Linked DNA regions of Homo sapiens: regions 2, 3 and 4 are each linked to region 1. The links come from fine-mapping of genetic effects on gene expression. A gene starts in region 1. Each other region holds a variant in brackets. All regions are shown on one strand. Distances are between the middles of the regions. Region 1 holds the start of MARCO (macrophage receptor with collagenous structure). Region 2 overlaps MARCO (macrophage receptor with collagenous structure). Region 3 overlaps MARCO (macrophage receptor with collagenous structure). Region 4 overlaps MARCO (macrophage receptor with collagenous structure).

Region 1 (5,151 bases):
TATTTTCAAAAGAAAATAAAACTATATATGGCCTAAATAAATAAATCTTCAGCAGACAAAAAATAAGTAATGTGCAGAGCCGGCCCTGAGGGGTCACTGTGTTACCAGAGCCTCACAGTGATTACCTGCATAATGGCACTCTTCTAGAAAGTTTCATATGTTCCACAATCTTTGTATTAGAAGGCAGGATGTTGTGAATGCATATAAGAAAATGTTTCTTTCATCCAAATTGGAGTAGTTTTGGTTTTTTGGTGAGATACTTTAAACATTTTATTTATTTATTTATTGGTGGAGATAGGGTCTCACTATGTTGCCCAGGTTGGTCTCAAATTCCTGGGCTCAAGGAATCCTCCTGCACTGGCTTAGTTACATTTTTAATTGGTGACACACACAACCCAGGTCAGAAATCTAGGGTTCACTATTAACTCCTGCGTCTTCCTCCCCAGCCCTGTCCTGCCATTGCAGTCCAATTGATCTGATTTCCGGTGTTTCTCCAGAGCATTCCTTTATTTTCCTGCCTTCCATCCACTGCCCCTCATCATCTCTTGCTGCCAAGTTCCTCTCTGTCCTCAGCTTCTCTCTCCAGCCATCCCTATGTAGGACAAAGAGCAACCTCACATGCACATTAGTGCCTTTCAGCCCCACATCGGCCCCTTCCTGCTTCCCCACTGACCTCAGGATGAAGTCAAATTTTTTGGTTCCAGCCTCAGTCCCCACTGGTCTTTCCGTCCCAATTTTGGCCAAACAGTATGGAAGTATTTATATTTCTCTGAATATTTCTTGTGAATACAATACAAACATGTGGCGCCCACCCCGCCCCAGGCACTAACTTCTTTCTCTAACGGACTCCCTTTATCCTTTAAACTTTGGAAGAGGTGTCAGCTCTGCCCTCCAGGGCTCTACACCTGGTTAGATCTGTCCATCATGTCCTGTGGAAGTCTCAGTCACAACATGGAAATTGTCAGTTCATGGGCAGCTTACCCTGTCCCCTGTCCCCTCGTGCCAGAAGCCAGAGGCCAGAGGCTATGTTTATTCAAGCCTGTTTCCTCAGTGCTGAGTGCAGTGCCCTGCTGGAAATAGGTGCTGAGTATGCTTGATCAGCTGACTTTGCTTGAACATCTTCAGTCTCTTAAACAGTCATGTATCCAGAATGTTGCATTCTGAGAAGTTCTAAATAGCCAATGATTATTATAGCCATTAGCACTCACACCTTTCTCTGTTATTACACTGTAAATTCCTAGAGGCAGAGCCCCAGACGCTTCATCTTTGTGCGCTGAAAATTCCAGGCAGGGACCTGGGCAGACAGGTGTGGGATGAGAAGGACACTCTGGCCAGGAGATAAAGCCACCAATTTTCCTGCATAGACAACTTCCAGCAAAGCCTGGGAGTGGAAATGACTGATCAACTTGGAAGATGATCCCAAGAGAACGTTCTAGACTAGGAAATCAGAGCTCATTTGTGGAATGCAAGCCCACCCATGACTTCAAATGCTACAAATTCTAGAAGATTTTAAAAATGCATCACCTGTTGAATGCTGAGTGAGAAAATAAAGACAACAGAGTTGACTGAATATTACAGACCTGAGTTTAACCTAAGACAAACTAATTATGAAGCTATGAACATATTTCAGTCAACATGAAATACAGAATATGTTTCCTGACCAGCACATCAGTTATAACAGAAATCCCCTTAAAGAATTTTAAAGAAGCTGTGTTTTGAAAACTGTCATGCTTGGCTTCAGTTTTGTGGTCCCCTTTCAGTGCCCCTGTTTTGCGTTTTCATTGTATCACCCAACCTGTGTGTCAGAATAAGACATTCATTAAAAAAAGGGGACATTTAATAAGCATTGGCATTTTTTCAAGGGAAAATATTTAAATATGATTAAAACAATAGTGAAGCTAAGAAAAACCTGACTATATGCTAAAAATACAGCATCTATTATTAGCATTCCAGAAATTCCAAATTGAAGCACTCCAGACAGTATTAGTGATGATTACGTGCAAAATGCAGCAATAAGCCAAACCTAGACTTTCTATTGACTTGTCTATTTTCGTATCTCGCTAGCAGAAAGACTACATTTCTGGTCATTTCCATTATTGGGGAATCGTACTTTACCATTGATTTCGAAAGGCTCCATTGCAATTTGGTGAAAAGCAGCTTGTTGGGTCTCACTCAAGAGCTCGTCCTCCTTGAGAATTTTCTTATTTCTCATTGCCAAGCTTTATAGATGGCCAAAGTCCTGGAGCCAGCAGAAATGCTCCCCTCAAGAGGAACCACTTGGAGAAAGATCCTTCCCATCGAACCACTGCAGCTGGTTGTAAACCTCGCAGCACTTCCCTTTGGCTCTGATTTCAGAATTTGCAGGATGTTTCCTGACATGATCAGGATTGGACATTTCTCAAACACGGGCTATTCACATGTGGATCTCCCACACAGTGCTGCTGCTTGTTAAGGGGGATCGAGGAGGCTTTGGGACACAAGTTACGGGCCTCTGAATGCACCCGTCACTCCCAGGTCCCTGAGACCCAAAAGCTGGATGGCTCCAGAGAGGGCCAACCAAGCCCTGCCATGGGCCCAGACTCAGCTCTCTGTCCCAGGACCTCTCCAGCCCACAGTGAAATCTCCCTTCTCTGACCTGCCTCAACCTTTAGAGTTCATCCTTGCTGCTCAAAGTGTGGTCCATGGACCAGCAGTATTAGTATCACCTGAGAACTTGTTAGAAATGCAAGTTCACTTGTTCTAACAATGAGTCTCTGGTCCCACCCCATCAGATCAAATCCAAATCTACAGTTTAACTAGATCCCCAGGTGATTTATATACACATTACAGTTTGAGAAGCCTTGCTCTGAACCACACATTTTAGCACTTAGTATTTCTTCTTGTAGTTTTCCCATGTTCTCTCTCTGTGTGTGTACACATGTGTGCACATGTGTACATGTGTTACAGGTGTCCTTGTCCAGGCCCCAGTGAGATCTGAGCTCCTTAAGGAAAGTAGCTTCTCCCCTCTCTCCCTCCCGTCAGGCATCTCTACCAGGGATGCTGTATAGCATGGTGGTTAAGACACAGACACTAAGAGCTAGAATGCCTGGCTTCAAATTCCACCTCTTCCACATAGGGGCTGTCTGGCAGTAGGCAAATCACTTGAGCTTTGAGCATCTCACTCTTCTGTTTGTATAAATAAGGAAGATATGAATTTCGTGAGCCTTAAATGAATTAAATCATATAAGGTGGCTAGGATGGAAGTATTAGGTAATAAACACTATGGTCATGTTGTTGTTATTATCATTAGAGACATTGTGAGCCTGCTGGGCACCGAGGAGATGAAGAAATGGCCTTTTTTCATGAAAGATATTCACAGTCTACCATGCAAGATGGTTGCGGCTACAACTACATTCCAGAAAATTGCTGTGAAGTGCGGCAAAGGTTGATGTCCCTGAAAAGACAGAAGTGCCGGGAGGCAGGGGAGACAGGGCAGAAATATGACAAATAGCTTTATCATCTGAATCAAGAGATATCAGATACCAGAGCTGGGCTTAAAAGGATAATGGGGGATTGATCCAGATCAAGATGAGGCAAAGGCCCTCCAGGGAGGAAGGAGGGCAGGTGCAGCCTCTCAGAGGTGGGACAGCCTGGAGCAGGGGAGCCGTAGACTTTTGGCCTATTTGAAATGTAAGAGGTGAGGAAGACAGGTGGCAGGAAGTGAAGCTGTGCCAGGCGAAGTCACTTTCTTTGGCCCGTGGTATGTCAGAAAGTGAAAGGGGATGAAACTCAGGAAAGTGAGCTCCTAGCAGTGCCCTGAAAAGCAGAGGTCCCCCGTGGCGCCCACAATTTCAACATTCAGGAAGTCACTGGTTCCGCCAGAGGACAAGCAGCAGAAGCCAGGACAGAAAAATTTAAAGAGGAAAATTGGAAATGAGGAAGTGATGGCTCCAGCTAGAGTCTGGGGGGTAGACAGGACCAGATAATTGAGGACACAGGGGATTTGCCCACTGGAGGGCAGTCCCCTAGGCAAAGGAACCCGCTCACTTAGCCTGGCAGAGCTCCCTGCTCTCCCTCTGCCTCTGCCTGGTCAGCTCATCTTTGATTCTCATGGGTGTGGGGAGGGGACTTATTAGAAAATGTCATGGGCTAATTATTGAGGATCCCTGTTCTTAAAGGAAGCACTTAGTGGATGTCAAGTGTAGTCACTTCACCTCTGGCTAGAGACCAGAGAGACTTGGGTCCCAAATTCAACTCTTTCATTAACTTTCTGTGTGACCTTGGTTGACTTACTTCTCTGAACTTCCACACAGAGTAATGGCTTGTGCAAGCATTAATTCCTATCCAGGATTTACTGTTAATGCCAGACACTGTGCTAAACATTTGCATACATTGCTCAACACTCATAACTTGCAACTTGCCTTAAATTGTGTGGTTATAAAGAGCTACACCAGAATTTGAATCCAGACTCTCTGCCTCAATCTATAGACTGATTTAATTCTGGTTTAATCCAGGGGTTCCAATCCAGAGGTTTGCAGTAGAGGAATGCCAGTTTCCCATCCCAAACCTGAGGCTCTGGTTTTAATAAAAATTTCAGAAAGAGCTCTAATGTGCACCAGGCTTAGGACCACCGAGTGGTATAATTGAAGCACTCATGTGCAGTGTGGCCTCCTGACTCCATCCTAGGAGGATCCATTAGGTTGAATCATATGGAATGACAGATATTTATCTGTTTTTCATATGCAATAAATGGATACTTTATATGACTCAAGCTAATCCATTCACCTTGCAGGGCCTGAGACTCAGGGATTAGGATGAAGCAAATAATTCACTAGCCTTGAGTACAAAAGATTCAATAATCAAGATAAATAATATTTTAGTGCAATATATTTAAAAAATCAAAGTTAATGCAAAAATTCTGCGATGAACAAAATATCATCATTTTAAAGGAAGACAGAATCCCACTTTGCACGTACAATGACCCTCCTCATTTGCTTACCCTAGTCCTGGCCCTCTCATTAGCTCTGTGTTTCAGCATCCCCATTACAAAATGGGATGCCCAGAGTTGCCGTGTTTACCCATAGAGTGGATGTGTGGATCAAATAAAATAATAAATGAGTAAGTACATTTGTAAACAAAAGTTCTATATGCAGAATAGCATTTTATATCAAA
Region 2 (5,151 bases), 24 kb before region 1:
GAGGAGAGAGCTGGGGTTAAAAAGTTAAGGTGGCAGGTGACACAGCAGGCATATGACCCCAGGTTGGTCTAGCTTCAAGGCCTGAGCTTGCCTCACTAGCCTGCACTGACCACTGCCCCTAGGAAAGATCCAGTTGAAATGGGCCCCAAGGGCACATCTGAAAGGGAAACAGACAATAATGAAGGAGCCCAAGGGAATGTGTGCCCAACCATGTTTGCTTTTGTGATAGGGGCAGGTGGGTTTTAACTATTGTGACAGATGCACTTAAACCTCAGATCTTTTCCTATCACCTGCAGCTCCTGTGTTTACCCTGCTGATATTCCTTCCAACCCCCGCACAGCAGGGACCCCTGCTTGAGAAATGCCCAGATGAACAATGGTCTAGGGGTAGCTCTGGCAGCACAGAGAGGAGTGGTTTTGTTGGTGGGTTGGTTGTTTAGCTAGTGGTACTCGATTATACTCAGTTTAGCATGGAGTGCCCCGTCTCCTCTGCACCCTACCCCCCAGAATCCAGGCTCACACAGCAGCCTGAGTGAGCCCCACAACACATAACCTGCCCAAGTCATTCCCTGCTCTCAGCCCTTCAGTGGGGGCTCACTGCTCCCAACCTGGCACCTGAAGCCCGTCTGGCCAGCTCTCCTATGGCTGCAGTTCCATGTCACACCTCCACATGGATCCTGACCAATGGCCAGGCCAGATGACAACTGGTGGCATTCTTCTGACTTGGGGCAATGTGTGTCCCCTGAATACTGGCTCTCCTCCTTCCCTTTCACAAGACTAATTTCTGCTCATCCTTCGGAAGTTCAGTAGAGCCCGTCCTGCTTCAGGACACCTTCTCTGGTTCCTCTGGGCTGGGTGGAACCCCCCTTGGCTCTCCCACATCACTCTGTTTCTCTCTGCCATAGCACTGATCACCCTGGATTGTGTTTTTGTCTCTGTCTCCCCAAATGGCCTGGAAGCTCTTTGAGCTGTATTCCAGCACCAACGTGGTATCTGGCACACAACATGCTGGGAAGATGATGACTGAATAGATGAATGAATGAGTGGCTACAGAGGTTTGGGTGCTGAACATGTGCAGAGTTAGAAGTGTTGAAAGAACATCAGGAATGCAACTCAGGGCCTCAGGTATTCATGCAACCGTCATGATGAAGACAAATAACACACGAGGGGAGCCTCACATTTAACACGAGGTGGTGGATGGCAAATTGGCAAATACAGTGTCATGGACAGCACTGTTTTTGGACAGCACTAAATTTTATGAAACAAACATCATGGGAATGGAAAGGTAAATTGTGCTTCAGAGACACAGGTATTACAGAAGTCAGAGGCTGGAGCAAGCATGGAAAATACAGATATTTTGAAACCATATGGTCAGAGCGTGGTGGAAGGCATGTGAGTAAGGATACAATGAGAAAAAATAAGGTATGGTAATACTGTGACAGTAGTTCATGGATAGCCATCCAGGCCCAGAATGCTTTTTAAATTCAGAGCTACCACCTGGCATAGAGGCAAAGTATTTTAGAAACTGGGAATGTTGAGCCTGTAGACCTATATAACTCATTCTGTACAAAATGGAGGGTCTGATGAAGTCTTTAGCCTCTACACTGTTCATTTCATCTCTTAGAGGGTAGAAGAAACTATAAAGAAAACACCTATTCTGGATCAGGTTTGACCAAAGAGGAAGAGCTGCTTGACATGAGAGGATAAAAACAGCTGCTAGTAAATAAAAATGGGCTTCCCTGGAGTAAACCTTGATGAGTATGGGCAAAGATTTTAGGCAAGCAGGTTTCAGAAATTTGACAGCTCTATTGTCTGGCCCACAATGAAAACATAGCTCAGGAGGGAAATAAAAATAATTTTTCAAGTCTGTAAAAGATCCCAGTGAAGAAAAAAAGCCTGCACACAAATTCTAGTCTTTCCAGGTCTGCCACCTCCTGGGGTAGCAGGCAGTGCTGGTAGGGTGTCCTCCTCCAGGTCTGCCACCTCCTGGGGTAGCAGGCAGTGCTGGTAGGGTGTCCTCCTCCCGTGCTATAACACTAGTGGACATTGAGCAGGTGTCCTCACTCTACCCTAGCACTGGGCTGCCTGGTGAGCAGACCCAGAGAAGTAATGTCTTCCCTTTGGGCCTGATGTATCTCACTTCCTACCTGATAGCACCAGGCAGTACTGGAACGTGCCTTCTGCCTTGCAGGAAGGACCAGCAGGGGACCAGCAAGAACTAATGGCACCAGGTAAACAAAGTGGATCAAAATAACGTGGACAGGGCTCTGAAAACTAAATTGTCATTGTACCATAGCCCACACAAGTAGGCCAGAACCTACATAATAAACCTAAACTGTGTGACTCTGTGACTGTCTACTAAAATAGAAGTTTTAAATAGGACTCAGAATCTCCTAACATACTATACAAAACATCCATTATATAATGGAAAATCACCCATCATACAAAGAATAGAGAAAATCACAACTCAGATGAGAGGAGACAATCAAGAGATACCAGCATTGAGATGACACAGATGTTAAAACTATTCCACAAGAATTTTAAAGCAGCTGTAACAAAATGCCTTAGTGAGCAATTAAAACTATTCTTGAAACAAATTTTTTAAAAGCTCACCAAAATAGTACAACATATAAAAAAAGAACCAAATGGAAACTATAGAACTAAAAAAATACCAATGAAAGAAAAAAGACTTGGTAGATGAGCTGAATAGTGTAATAGATGTGACAGAGGAAAGAATCAGTTAACTCGATGATAGAACAATAGAAATTACACGTCTGAAAAACAGAAAATCAGCTGGGAAAACAAACAAACACACATGAACAGAGCCTCAGAGACCTGTGGGCCAGTAACAAAACACCTACAATTCATATCATTTAATTCCTAGAAAAAGTGTGAGGCTTAAAAAATATTCAAAGAAATAATGGCTAAAAATTTCCCTAATTTCGTGGAAGATCTAAACCTACAGATTAAAGAAACTGCCAAAATCGCAAACATGATAAACTCAAAGAAATCCATATCAAGACACATCATAACTAAAACATTGAAAACATAAAAAGGCAGAGAAAATTAAACATCTAAGGAAAAAGGAAAAATCTAGAAAGCAGCCAGAGACAAATGGCACATTACTTATAAAGGAATACTTTTTTTTTTTTTTT[TG/G]AGATGGTATCTCACTCTGTCGCCCAGGCTGGAGTGTACTGGCATGATCTCTGCTCGCTTCAACCTCCATCTCCTGGGTTCAGGTGATTCTTGTGCCTCAGCCTCCCAAGTAGTTGTGATTACAGGTGCACGCCACCATGCCCGGCTAATTTTTATATTTTTAGTAGAGACAGGGTTTCACTATGATGTCCAGGCTGGTCTTGAATTCCTGACCTCAAGAGATCCGCCCACCTCAGCCTCCCAAAATGCTGGGATTACAGGCATGAGCCACTGTGCCTGGCCAGGAATACCAATTTGAATGACAGAAAGTTTCTCATCAGAAACTATGGAGAACAGATGTAAGTGGTACAGCTTATTTTGTGTTCTGAAAAAGAAGAATTGTCAACCAGGAATTATATTGCCAATAAAAATACACTGTGGGAATGGACAAGAAATAAAGACACTCTCAGAGGAAGAGAAATGAAGAGAATCTTTTACTGGCAGAACTAACTTTAAAGAATGACTAGAGGAGGTTCCCCTAACAGAAAGGAAATGATATAGTAAACTAGAATTTCAAAAAAGAAAGAGAATAATAGAACAAGTAAAAATAGGGATATATACTACAGCATCCTTCTCCTCATGAGTTTTAAAAATCACATTTGATTTTTAACACAAAAATTATACCACCTGATGTGGTGTTCAGTGAATGTAATAGAAAATGACAATTATATTTAAAAAGTGGAGAAGGCTAAAGAACATAAATGAAAGTAAGATTTCTACACTTGACTCAAAATGGTAAAATGTTGATATGTTCTGTATGTATATTGCAATAGCCAGGCTGCGATAAGTTCCATATGTATATTGCAATAAGTAGAGAAACCATTAAGAAAACTATTCAATAAAAAACACTATAAATAAATCAAAATGGAATTCTAAAAATTATTCAAATAATCCACAGGAAGGCAAGAAAAGAGAAATACATGAATGGGAAACAAAGAAAAAACAGAAAACACACAATAAGATGGCCAATTTAAGCACTGACATATCAATAATTACTTTCGGTATAAATGGTCTAAATCAGAGGACGGATATTGCCAAACTGTATTAAAAAACATAATCCAACAATGTGCTATAAATAAGAAATCAAACAATAGAACTTCAAAATACATGAAGCAAAAACTGATTTAACTGAAAAAAGAAATAGACAATACACAATTATAGTTGAGACTTTAACACGTAGTTTCAGCAATTGATAGAAACTCTGCAAAGTTACAGAAGAACTAAACACTAGCACTACTGACTGATAGTATCTAATGAACACACAGAATACTCCAGGTAGCAACAGCAGAATGTACATCCTTTTCAAGGACACATGGAACATACACCAAAATAGATGATATCCTAGGTCATAAAACAAATTTCAACCAAATGAAAAAAAACCAAGGTCATACAGAATACCTTATTTGCCAATAATACAATAAAAATAAAAATCAACAATGGATAGGCAACAGGAAAATCTCCAAACATTTGGAACATTTAAAAAAGGACTTCTATATAATGCATGGGTCATTAAGAAAGCATCAAAAAAATTTTAAAAATACAAATGAAAGGAAATGAAAATACAATATATTAAAATTTATGGGATAAAAAAAAGCAGCTCTGAAAAGAAAATTTATAGCACGAACTGCTTACACCAAAAATAAAAAAGGCCTCCAATCAACACACTAAGTTTTTTCCTCAAGAAATTAGAAAAGAACAAAATAACTCCTAATCACCAGAAAAGGAAATAATAAAGATAAGAATATAAATAAATAAAATTTAAAATAGGAAGATAGAGAAAAATCAATGAAACAAAAGCTAGCTCTTTGAACAAAGTCAATAAAATTGGCAAATCTCTAGCAAGACTGAACAAAAATAAAAATGAAAGAAGACACGGATAGCCAATATCAGAAATGAAACAGGTGCTATCACTACAGATCCTGCAGCCATTAAAAAGAAAATAAGAAAATACTATCAC
Region 3 (5,151 bases), 43 kb before region 1:
TCGATGGAGGAACTAGTAATTACTTCACTATAAATCAAGGCAGCATCCTGATAGGATCAGCTCCTGCAGAGTAGAGGGAGAAATGGCTAAAAAATAGGTTCTAGAGCTGCATGTTGTAAAACTACGCTGGAGAGCAAATAAATGCTGGATTTTTCTTCTTAACCATAAGCAAGCTGGCTTTCCCCAAGTATCACAAGCTTATCAAGCTGAAAGGGTTCCAAATATTTACTTGCAAAGTGTTTTTACAGAAATAATATTCTCCCAAGAAATGTGTGTTAAGTTAGAAAACATATGCCTTCCAGTTGTTTAGTGTTGAGCTGGTGTTCTGACTAAAGTCTTCAATTGTTCCTGCTCCCAGGGAAGCTGCCTATTTCAAACCCAGAGTGCTGTGAAACTGTCAGGGACCTGGTGTTCTTCTATACTGCTTGCACGCCACAGAAAAGGAAACAGGCTCAGCAACGTCAAGTAGCTGAGCCTGTGGTCACTCAGCTAGTCAGGGGTAAGTTCAAGCTGAGGCTCAGATCTCCTGATTCTGAGTGAAATGGAGAAATCTCCAATACATTAAGAAAACTTTCTTTCTTTCCCTTTCTTTTCTTTTCTCTCACACTCTTTCTTTTCTTTCTTTCTTCTTTCTTTCTCTTTCTTTCTCTTTCTTTCTTTCTTTTCTTTCTTTCTTTCTTTCTTTCTTTCTTTCTTTCTTTCTTTCTTTCTTTCCTTCCTTCCTTCCTTCCTTCTTTCTTTCTTTCTTTCTTTCTTTCTTTCTTTCTTTCTTTCTTTCTTTCTTTCTTTCTTTCTTTCTTCTTTCCTTCCCTCCCTCCCTCCCTCCCTTCCTTCCTTCCTCTCTCTCTCTTTCTTTCTTTCTTCTTTTTGACAGGGTCTCACTCTGTTGCTCAGGCTGGAGTGCAGTGGTGCAATCATAGCTCACTGCAGGCTCAAATTCTTTGGCTCAAGTGATCCTTCTCCTCCTCCTTCAGCCACCTGAGTAGCTGAGACTACAGGTACATGCCACTATGCCCAGCTAATTTTTTTATGTTTTGTAGAGAGGGGGACATTGCTGTCTTGCCCCGTCTGGGGAAACTTTCCTAAATACCATGCCAACTTGGAGGCTAGATGCAACCTGGCAAATTTAGGATTGAGCTAATAACTGACAAATCGACCTTGTGGTAAGAAGTGAGATGAAGGATAAGGGACTCAAAATTGGGGTATGTGTAGACTTCTGCAAAGCTCTCTCAGAAACTTAGAGGAAAATGAGGAAGAGTTTTATAAATGACAATTTAGTGATTTGACTTAGTAGAATTTAATAAATTATTGGACTATCTCAGAACTTAGATATAAGGAATGGAATTAACTAAGAAATTATATTCATGACATAGGGCTCAATTGCTATTATGGATGATCTTTTTGGCTTATCTTTAAAGTAAAACATCTTCAAATACAGATGAGAAAATGGATTTTGAGTTATTTGCACTTCGGTTTTGCCCCAAGAGGAAAATAAAAGGGCATGGAAAATTCACATTGCTATAGTTTAGACATAAAGGCCATTGAGATAAAGAATTTCCAATCAGATTGGTGTTTTGGAGTTTAAATGTTTTGGCTGCTTCTAATGTTATTTCATGAGGTGTAAATGGTAAAAAGAGAAATGTCATGATTACAAGCCGAAGTGGAGTCCTTCCTTATTTCTAAATAAATATTATTTCAAAATAGCTAAGACATGTAGAGCTAAAATTGGATTATTCTTCTGCAATCTTTGAAAGTGAAAATGTTAGAAATACTAAGTGATGGAGGCTGGACAGGGTCTGTTTCTAGTAGGTAAAAAAAGTGACCCTGAGAGAAGGTTCTGCAGGGTATGGTGCCTTGCTTAATAAACTGTGGAGGTTATCTTCCCACCAGAATGGGAAGAATTTCCTCTTTGTCTTCTTTAATATGAGCTGGCTCCTCTCTCAAGAGATGCAAACAAGAGGAAGCATTTCACCTGAATGGGGTAGAGTGTGGTCAGTGGCTGTGGAGGAGGTAGAAAGGCTTGGTGACCAAGCCAGGATTTACCCATTTATGGAGGAGTGGGAGGTGTGGCTGGGGTGGGGACAGGGTGAAGGTAAC[C/T]GATTTCTCTCAAATCATACACTCTACGTTCTTCCATAAAACCGATTCTGGAAAAGCACAACTCTGGAATCAGACTTTGGGATTCACTTCTGAATTCAGTTCATGCTCCCTGTGACACTGTGAGCAAAGGGTTTACTCTCTCTGAGCCTTTGCTTCCTTGTTTGTAAAGTAGGAATGATAAGTTCAGTGTGATCATGGGAGTCAAGACCCAGGCACAGTGCCTGGCCCAGAGGCACTGATAATAATGAACAGACCGCTCATGTTTTTAAAATAATTAATGCGCAGTAATGAAACCTAGCTGTCACCTAGGTCAAGCCAACGCACTGTAATTTTTCTGTTTTCATCTAAAGTGGCTAGATATTCTCTTGAGAGATTAACGATTTTATTTACAAAATGGGAAATACATCAGTTTGGAAACCTGGCTTGATATATCAACACTGGCCAAGCACTGCAGTGGCTTTAGTTTGGGGAATACCGACATCCTGACATTGACAAGTATACACTGTGCTCCATGATGGGGAGATTGGGCTCCCACCCTCTGCCTGCCCCTGCTTCTCCCACTTCAGAAGTTGTCAAATCTAATCTCTCCGGAAGTTTATTAGCCTATGACTCCAGGATGATCTACATACCCAGCTAAATTAGCCAGATTATGGTCCTATTGGAATTCCCCTCTGAGATGTCCATGTGGACTGTCAGCTACTAAATCAAGGAAAACATTTGGACTCGGGTGGGCAACCTGCACAGTTTTAGATAAACGGGAATTATCACAAGCCCCAAATTGAAATGCACTTCCTCATGTTTACTTGGTCAGCCAGAATTAAGGGTAACCCCTAGAATTTGCTGGCTGGTACTCACCACTAGGCCTAATTATTGGAGAACTCCATAAGGGTATTCAGCAGATATAAAAGGTCTCGATGAGGATGAAATTAAAATGATCCCCAAGCTATGGGCCAAAAGTCTTTTGCTAAAATGGGTGTGGGGTCCTGGTTAAATAACTAAGAACCATGATAGGGCCTGAAAGCTTCATGTTTCTTCCCAGGAATGGAACAAGCTGCTACCTTCTGCTCTGATCCTTTCTGAACTGGGATGAAGGGAGGAGGTGTCACTCATCAGCACACCCTGATTGTGGGGCTGGGGAGGGAGAACTCATGATAGACTGTACTAATAAGATCCCAAGCTTTGTCTTGTACTGGCCTAGATTTGAACCTGGCTGCATCTCTTAATGGCTGTTTGACCGTAAAGTTGTGCTACAAAGAGTGCTTGTCCCACTGGGTGTCAAGAAGATGCTCATTAGCAGGAGCTGCTTTTGTTCTGCAAATCCTCCCAGGATGCAAAGGGCAGGGCAGGATTCCCTACCCTCAGACTGTGGAAGACACAAGCTTGGGGCTTGGGGAGTAAGCACAATGCTCCTGTGGGTAAAATCATGTTTTACCTCCAATACTCTTGGTTAGTTGAGAACCGTTAGTCTGGCAGTGGGGGTGGGGGCAGAGGGTGACTACTATTTACAACCGAGAGATGAAAGCAATCATCTCCATGAAATCACACAGAAGGCTCAGGGGCAAGAGAGCATCAGGTCTCATAGTCAGATGGACTCTGAGACTGGGGACCAGAGAAGATGGAATTATAAGATCAGAATGGACAGTGAACAAGTCAGGAACATCTGACGACTATACCCAGATGGAAACTTTCCTATGGTGAGACCCAGCTAGTGGCCTTCAGGTGGCATCCACATGGGATCAGGTAGCAGGGATCCTCCCAAACACACTGTCCATAAAAAACACAATTGCTCTGGGGCTCGACAGATTACAAGGACAGAGAGGGTGTAAAACTGCGCTTGCCATGGCTCCCGACAGCTTTCAAAGAAACACAAAAGCTCAAGCCCAGAGCCCAAGGTTTGCCAGGAGGTGGTGATGAATGAATCAATCAATTGATTAGAGCTGTGGAGGGCCAGGTCCCAGTGTAGGTCTCTAGCACAGCACGGGGGTGAGGGCATCCAGGTTGTCTGACACAAGCGTGACCTTCTCAGGCAGAGGACAGGGGTGGAGGCAGACTGTCTACAGATGTCCTTGGCAGACATGCAGCTTTACATCACAACCCTGCCTTCCCCATTGCCCCTCCTGCCCGCTCTTGGCTTTCCAATGTGCAACAGTTCTCCACAGAAATGCCCAATCAGAGTGTGCCCACATCATCTGGCAACAGTCTCTGTTCACTGCAATACCCTGCATGTCAGGGCAGAAAGGCAGGAATTGATCTTATGCATTGTGATAGTGGTCTGGACTTTCTAGACCAAGCAAGCACACTGTGACTGGACCAAAACGGCTTATAAAGTAGACTATATTGGTACAATGGTTTACGACCTAGACTAAATAGACATGATGGTATATAACCTAGACTAACCTAGACTCTGTTGGCATTATGGTATAAACTAGTCTTTGGCTAGTGTGGGTCAGTGCTCCCAGGCTGCCCCCCTAGGAAAATGTGGAAGAAGAGTTTTCTGGACCCTCCAGCCTGAATCTAGACTCTTGGACCCCCTCTTAGGGGCCCCAATGAAGGGTTAGCAGGAGACAGCAGAAACGTACAGCTGGGAGGCAGACCAGGGAGATGGTATGGGCAAGGTGCTTTGCTCTCCTCCGTGATGCTGGAGGTTTGGTCATGGCATTCAAGGACTTTCATGAGCTCTGAGAAGAGAAAGAACAGCCCTAGGCCCTTGGGCTTAAGGGGTCCTGGCAGGGGCAACTGCCCCCATAACCAGGAACCTCAGAGGCCAAGGCACAGAAGACCCTCTGCCTCCTCCGTGGGCCTAAGAAGAAGCAGTTTTTCTCTCCATCCATCCTGCCACCCAGCAAGCCCACCTACTCACCCACTGCACCCTCTGTTACCTGTGTCCCCTTTGCTTCCTTTCAGGCCTGTGGCTCCTGGACTCCCGGGGCTCCCTGGAAGTCCTGGACAACAGACACCACAGAGAGCATAAGGGCTGGACTAGGCAGGTTTTCACACATCACTCCCTGTGCCCACCATAGGACCCAGGACCTCACCTGCTCGCCCAGGGGAGCC
Region 4 (5,151 bases), 30 kb before region 1:
AGATGGAATTAGTGTACTAATTACACAGGGATGTCCTGAGATTACCACGTGGGGACCATCATGGAAAACACACAAGGCAAGCTCACAGGAAGGCTCACAAGGGCAGGGCCTTGTCTGTCTTCTTCATGTCTGGATCCCCAGTGCCTATGCGACTTCTCATCCTCATGGAACTTTCAATAGGTATTTGTTGGGAGGAAGGAAAGAAGTCCAGGATGGATAGGGGAGAGAAACAGAGAGGCAAGTGGGTTTCGCAATCCCCTTCCCTGAAGCTTGGCTGAGGAGCAGTTCCCCTGACTGTGTTCCAGGCAGCCTGCGTGGGAAGGCAGTTCCACCGGCAGGCTGCCTCCAGTGAGACCATGACTTCTGGGTTCCACACCCAGCCCTCCTCCCCCACCCACCTATTTGTCTCTGGAGCCTTTTCAACAAAGGAACCTCTGGGAAGTCTTGACCAGGCAAGGCAAGCCATGGGGAAGGGGAGAGAACACAGCCTCCCTGGGTGGGAAAGGGTGATGGGCGGGGAATCTGGAGAGGCAGGTGGTGTCCGAGGAGGAGCCGAGACTTCTATAGCCCCAGCTGCTGGAAGAAGTTTCCTGTCTCTGGTTTCTGGGCACAAAAAGAAAGAGTGGGAAGAGACAGAGAGAGAGAGAGAGAGACAGAAGTCAGAGACAGAGAGAGACTGAGAAAGACATGGAGAGTGAGAGTTGGAGATTTTCTCTATGTACATACATCTATATTCAGAGAGAGAGAGAGGGAGACATGGAGAGAGATAGTTGGAGTTTTTCTCTATGTACATACATCTATATTCAGAGAGACAGAGAGAGAGACATGGAGAGAGAGAGTTGGAGTTTTTCTCTGTGTACATACATCTATATTCAGAGAGACAGAGAGAGAGACATGGAGAGAGTCGGAGTTTTTCTCTATGTACATACATCTATATTCAGAGAGACAGAGAGAGAGACATGGAGAGAGAGAGTTGGAGTTTTTCTCTATGTACATACATCTATATTCAGAGAGACAGAGAGAGAGACATGGAGAGAGAGAGTTGGAGTTTTCCTCTATGTACGCACATCTATATTCATACAGAGAGAGAGAGAGCCATAGAAGCCATGTTCTGTGCTCTGGGGTGAGGTGGGCAGCACTGTGCCTAGGGCGGGTGACAGGCAGATTTTGAAGGTTGTACTGAACCCATTGGGTTGAGAAGAAGTTTAAGCATTGATTCTGTCAGCAAAAGCAATTGAAATTGTTGAAACTGCCCCTCCTTAAAGGAGAGGAGCCAGCATTCATCAGGCTGGAGGCTCTCCTAGCAGCAGCATTTAGTTTTCTCAAGAATAACAGAATAACAACCATATATAACAATAGCAAATAATAGTCATAATAATAACGAAGACAAGAACATCATTGAGTACTTGCTCTTTGCTGGACACTGGACTAAGAGGTGTACATTTATTGTTTTATCCTGACACCAATCCTAGGAAGTCCTACCATATCTCCATCTTACGGGGGAGGACATAGAGCTCAGAAATGTTAGGTGACTTACTCAAGGCCACCCAGTTTACAGGGGCAGATCCAGGATTTTCTGTAGGCCCACCAGTCTCCCAAGTCCCTGCTTCCATCACTTTGCAAGGCTGCCTCAAAACCCTCCCTGGCCAATGGTGTGATCTGGGCCATCCTTGAAATATTATGGGACCAAAGGATTCTGTCCCAAAAATGGCATGTATATTTATCCTCAGGGGGAAATTTCAACCACTCAGCAGATGAAATGGAACAGGGCTGTGAGTGAAGCGTGTGTGTAACACAACACATGTGGGTTGAGGCAGGAAGAAAAGGCAAACAACCATAGCCTTGTCCTCAGAGAGCACATGCCATTGTCAGACAGCTTTTGCACTCCCTTGAGTCCTACAGCAACTCTGTGAGGCGAGTCGATTATCTCCACTGCTTCCTACACAGGTGAGTGGCTGGGGCTCCAGAAAACTTAAGTAACTGACCCAGAGTCACACCGCCAGTAAGCCCCAGGCCCAGGATTAGAACTCAGATCGGCCTGACCGCACAGCCTGCGCCTCCATGACACCTGCCTCCCATCATTACTGCCCTGTAGGAGAGAGGAGTGAGACACCATGGAAATGAGCACAGCACCTCTGGTGGGAAGTGCTATGTATGTGGTAGGTAAGAGTCACCTGGAAGGAATGCTTACAGGAAACCAGGAGAGAGGCTGCCCTGGCAGCCAGATGATGCCTGGTCTGGCCTGGGAAGGTAGCTAGATTTGGATGGGGGAGTGGAGAGAGGAAGCCTCTTTAAGTAAGGAGGGGGATGACAGCCCAGGGTCTGGGAGTCCAGTTAAGTTCTGGGAACAGAGAGGAGACCCAACTGAAGACAAAGGAGGCTGTGGAGACAGGGGAAGGTAAGCTAGGGTCAGCTGTCCAGACCCAGAATGGCACAGGCCAAGGGGCCCTTTTGGGGAGGTTTTGGGGAAAGAGCAGGGTGGGTGTGAGTGGAAATGAACCTACCTGGGGCGCCTTGTTCACCTTTGATTCTGAACATCCCTGCAAGGGAAGGAGAGTGAGCTGCAGCTGAGCTGTGGGGTACCCTTGGCCCAAGCCCCAACTGAGAGTGCCCAGGTTCTGCAGTGGGAGGGTAAGCCCTCCTGTGTGGGGCTCCCATCAGACTGTGGGGGTTTGGACAACAGGAGCCAAGCACCTGGCTGTTTTTTGGGAAAGAGTCCTTGGAAAGAGCCAGATGCTCAGCTGCAACTAGCGGACTGCACCCCGAGACCTGTAGATCCCTGGGAGTCTTGGAGGTGGGGAAAGGAGGTTGCTTCAAACCAGCCTGAGGAGGTAGAACCCCTTCGTATTGGTCAAAATGAGCTCCTTCACATTTCAAGGAAGGAAGAGACACTCCCATGGTGTCTGTGTCTGAACGTGGACTCCTTCCATCTGCCCACAGCTATCGCCCCTCCTCACACCCCCACTCAGCCTTCGTCTTTTCTCCCTGGGGAGGCCACAGCCTCTGGAGGGATTGGCCTCCTGGGTCCCGTGCTGGGCGTACCCCTTGGTCACAGGACCTAGCCATGGGATCACCCTCCTAAGCCTCAGCTCACACAGGGCCCAGAGCAAGGAACCCTGCTGGGGCTGGAGCTCTGTGTCAC[G/A]GGGTAAACCCTACAACAGTTGAGCCACACCTAGCAGCTGGTTTTGCTGAAACTGTCTGAGGGCGAGGCTCTTCCCATTTTGGGGCAGGCTGAGAGAGGAGAGGGTGCAGCTGCAAGGCCCTGAGAGCACCGAGGGAAGGGGCACCCTTGGGGTTTTAACCCTTGGCTCAATTTTCCCCAGCCTGCAGCCCTACCACCCAAGTCACCACCTTTCCCCCAGCAGGTCCGGGTGTCCTCCTCCCCACAAAGTCCCCACATTGTCTGAACTAGTTTGGTGCCTTCAGTTGCTCTCTCCCCAACCTCATGTCAGTGTAAGTCAGCTGTGGGGGAGTGGTCCAGGGAACCGCCCCAGGCTCTGTGTTTTACCCTCCCTCCCAGACATTCTGGATCCATGTGGGGACTCTGGGTTCAGACTTGGCATTGAGCTGGTTGCTCTAAGTCCCTGGCTCTTGGAGGTCACACTTTGCTTGGACAGGGTCCTTAATTTCCTGGTTCCTGATCCCGCTGTCTCCCAGACCTCTGTTGAGAAGTCCTGACCCAGAGGGGAGGAGGCCAAACCTGGGTTCTGAGTGAAGTTGTCTACCCGCTGCAGCAAGTGCTCATGGCTGACGCGGACCCAGGTGAGTTGGGCCTGCAGGACTTGCAGCCTCGATGCACCCTGAGCCAGGTGTTCTCCAGGGTGTGCTGACTGCAGCAAGGAGAAGGACGGGCTGTCCTCAGCCGCCAGAGTGTCATTGAGGAAATACATCTCCAGGACCCGGAGCCGCGCCTGCAGATTCAGAACTGGGCCCCACCCCACAGCATTCTTTTAGGGACTGAGGCATTTGAGCATATCCCTGACATTCTTGTGTCATGTGTGCATAACTTCTACAGGCCCTGAATTTGTAAACACAAATTCCATGTGCTGTCAGGACCTAGCGTGAGCACACGGCCTTTTCTACATCTTGACCATGTGCGCTCCACACTCAGGCATGATATTGCACGTCCACAAAACATTTCTGCGTGGCCTAAAGCTGTGCCTACTGCATCCACAATCAATCTCCAACCTTCAGGCAGTTAAGACCTTCCTGCATGCTCTGGGTGTAGATGCATGACAGCTAACATGCTGGTCTGACCTAAATATGTGCAAGCAGCATTCGTGTGTGATCTTAATACACACAAGACGTGTTTATGACAACTGCTCATTCAGCGTTCTTGAGTGACTTCAGTGTCTGCTCATGGAACGACTTCATGACTTTAACCTTTAGATTGGGAATACTTCAAAAGTAAAATCATGTTCAAATGGACACTTGGATCAGCAAAGCCCTTCCCACTCAGAGGCTGGGAGTCTTAGATGTCAGAAGTGTGTGTCATCCCCCGTGTGAAATTATGATGTCTTTCACTGCTTAGACACATAGGCTCACAAGAGCATTCTCAATGTCTCTCTCTCTCCCTCCCTCAGGCACACATACACACAACATACACTCCTTCTTTGCTCCTCTCATCACTGTGGCTGCCAGGGGCTGAGACTGTCTCCCAGCAGATGGGAGCAGTGGCCCGAGGCTCTCCACTCAACCTGAGCCCTTCATCTGAGGGGCCCAGCTGGGTCACCCCTCTCCCCCCAGGAGGGACTACACAGGACCAAGCCTGCTTTACCTTGGACCACCAGCAGCCCAGCGCCAGCGGTGAGCAGGATCAGGTAGATGACCACCACAGCTAGGGAGAAGTTCACCCCATTTCTCCTCTTGGGCTTTGGAACTGAAACACAAGCCAGGAGGAAGGAGGCTGCTGCAGAGAACACAGCACAGGAAGTCCCTGCCTGCTCCAGGCCCTACTCCATGTGAGCAGGGGGCACCCTGTGAGGTCAGCTGGGAAAGACACCAAAAGCTCATGACTCCCAAATCATCCCCCAATCCTCTTTCTTGCCACAAAGCAAAAATTGCCACTGTTGGTCACTCATCTGTGTGGCTGGGCAAATAAACATCTGTGCCATATATCATTTGCTGGAAAAGGTGTCATATCAACCTTGT

What was found. PIP is the estimated chance that this variant, and not a neighbour inherited with it, causes the effect.
Region 2: its variant is the best candidate, but not a certain one, in a credible set for the expression of MARCO in whole blood (TwinsUK, PIP 0.78).
Region 3: its variant is the best candidate, but not a certain one, in a credible set for the expression of MARCO in atrial appendage (GTEx, PIP 0.69).
Region 4: its variant is the best candidate, but not a certain one, in a credible set for the expression of MARCO in whole blood (INTERVAL, PIP 0.82).

The regions. Positions count from the first base shown.
Region 1 is chr2:118,939,362-118,944,512 of GRCh38, reverse strand. It overlaps MARCO (macrophage receptor with collagenous structure), which reads right to left and starts at 2,319. Exons shown (of 17, transcript NM_006770.4): 1 at 2,116-2,319. The coding sequence starts at 2,212.
Region 2 is chr2:118,962,892-118,968,042 of GRCh38, reverse strand. All of the region lies in intron 1 of MARCO (macrophage receptor with collagenous structure), which reads right to left. Among named protein-coding and RNA genes, the nearest start is that of MARCO, 23 kb to the right of the region's middle. The variant TG/G (reference allele first, on the strand shown) is at 3,155.
Region 3 is chr2:118,982,236-118,987,386 of GRCh38, reverse strand. It overlaps MARCO (macrophage receptor with collagenous structure), which reads right to left. Exons shown (of 17, transcript NM_006770.4): 11 at 5,133-5,151; 12 at 4,977-5,039. Among named protein-coding and RNA genes, the nearest start is that of MARCO, 43 kb to the right of the region's middle. The variant C/T (reference allele first, on the strand shown) is at 2,098.
Region 4 is chr2:118,968,888-118,974,038 of GRCh38, reverse strand. MARCO (macrophage receptor with collagenous structure) reads right to left here. Exons shown (of 17, transcript NM_006770.4): 2 at 4,778-4,879; 3 at 3,701-3,925; 4 at 2,505-2,540. Among named protein-coding and RNA genes, the nearest start is that of MARCO, 29 kb to the right of the region's middle. The variant G/A (reference allele first, on the strand shown) is at 3,143.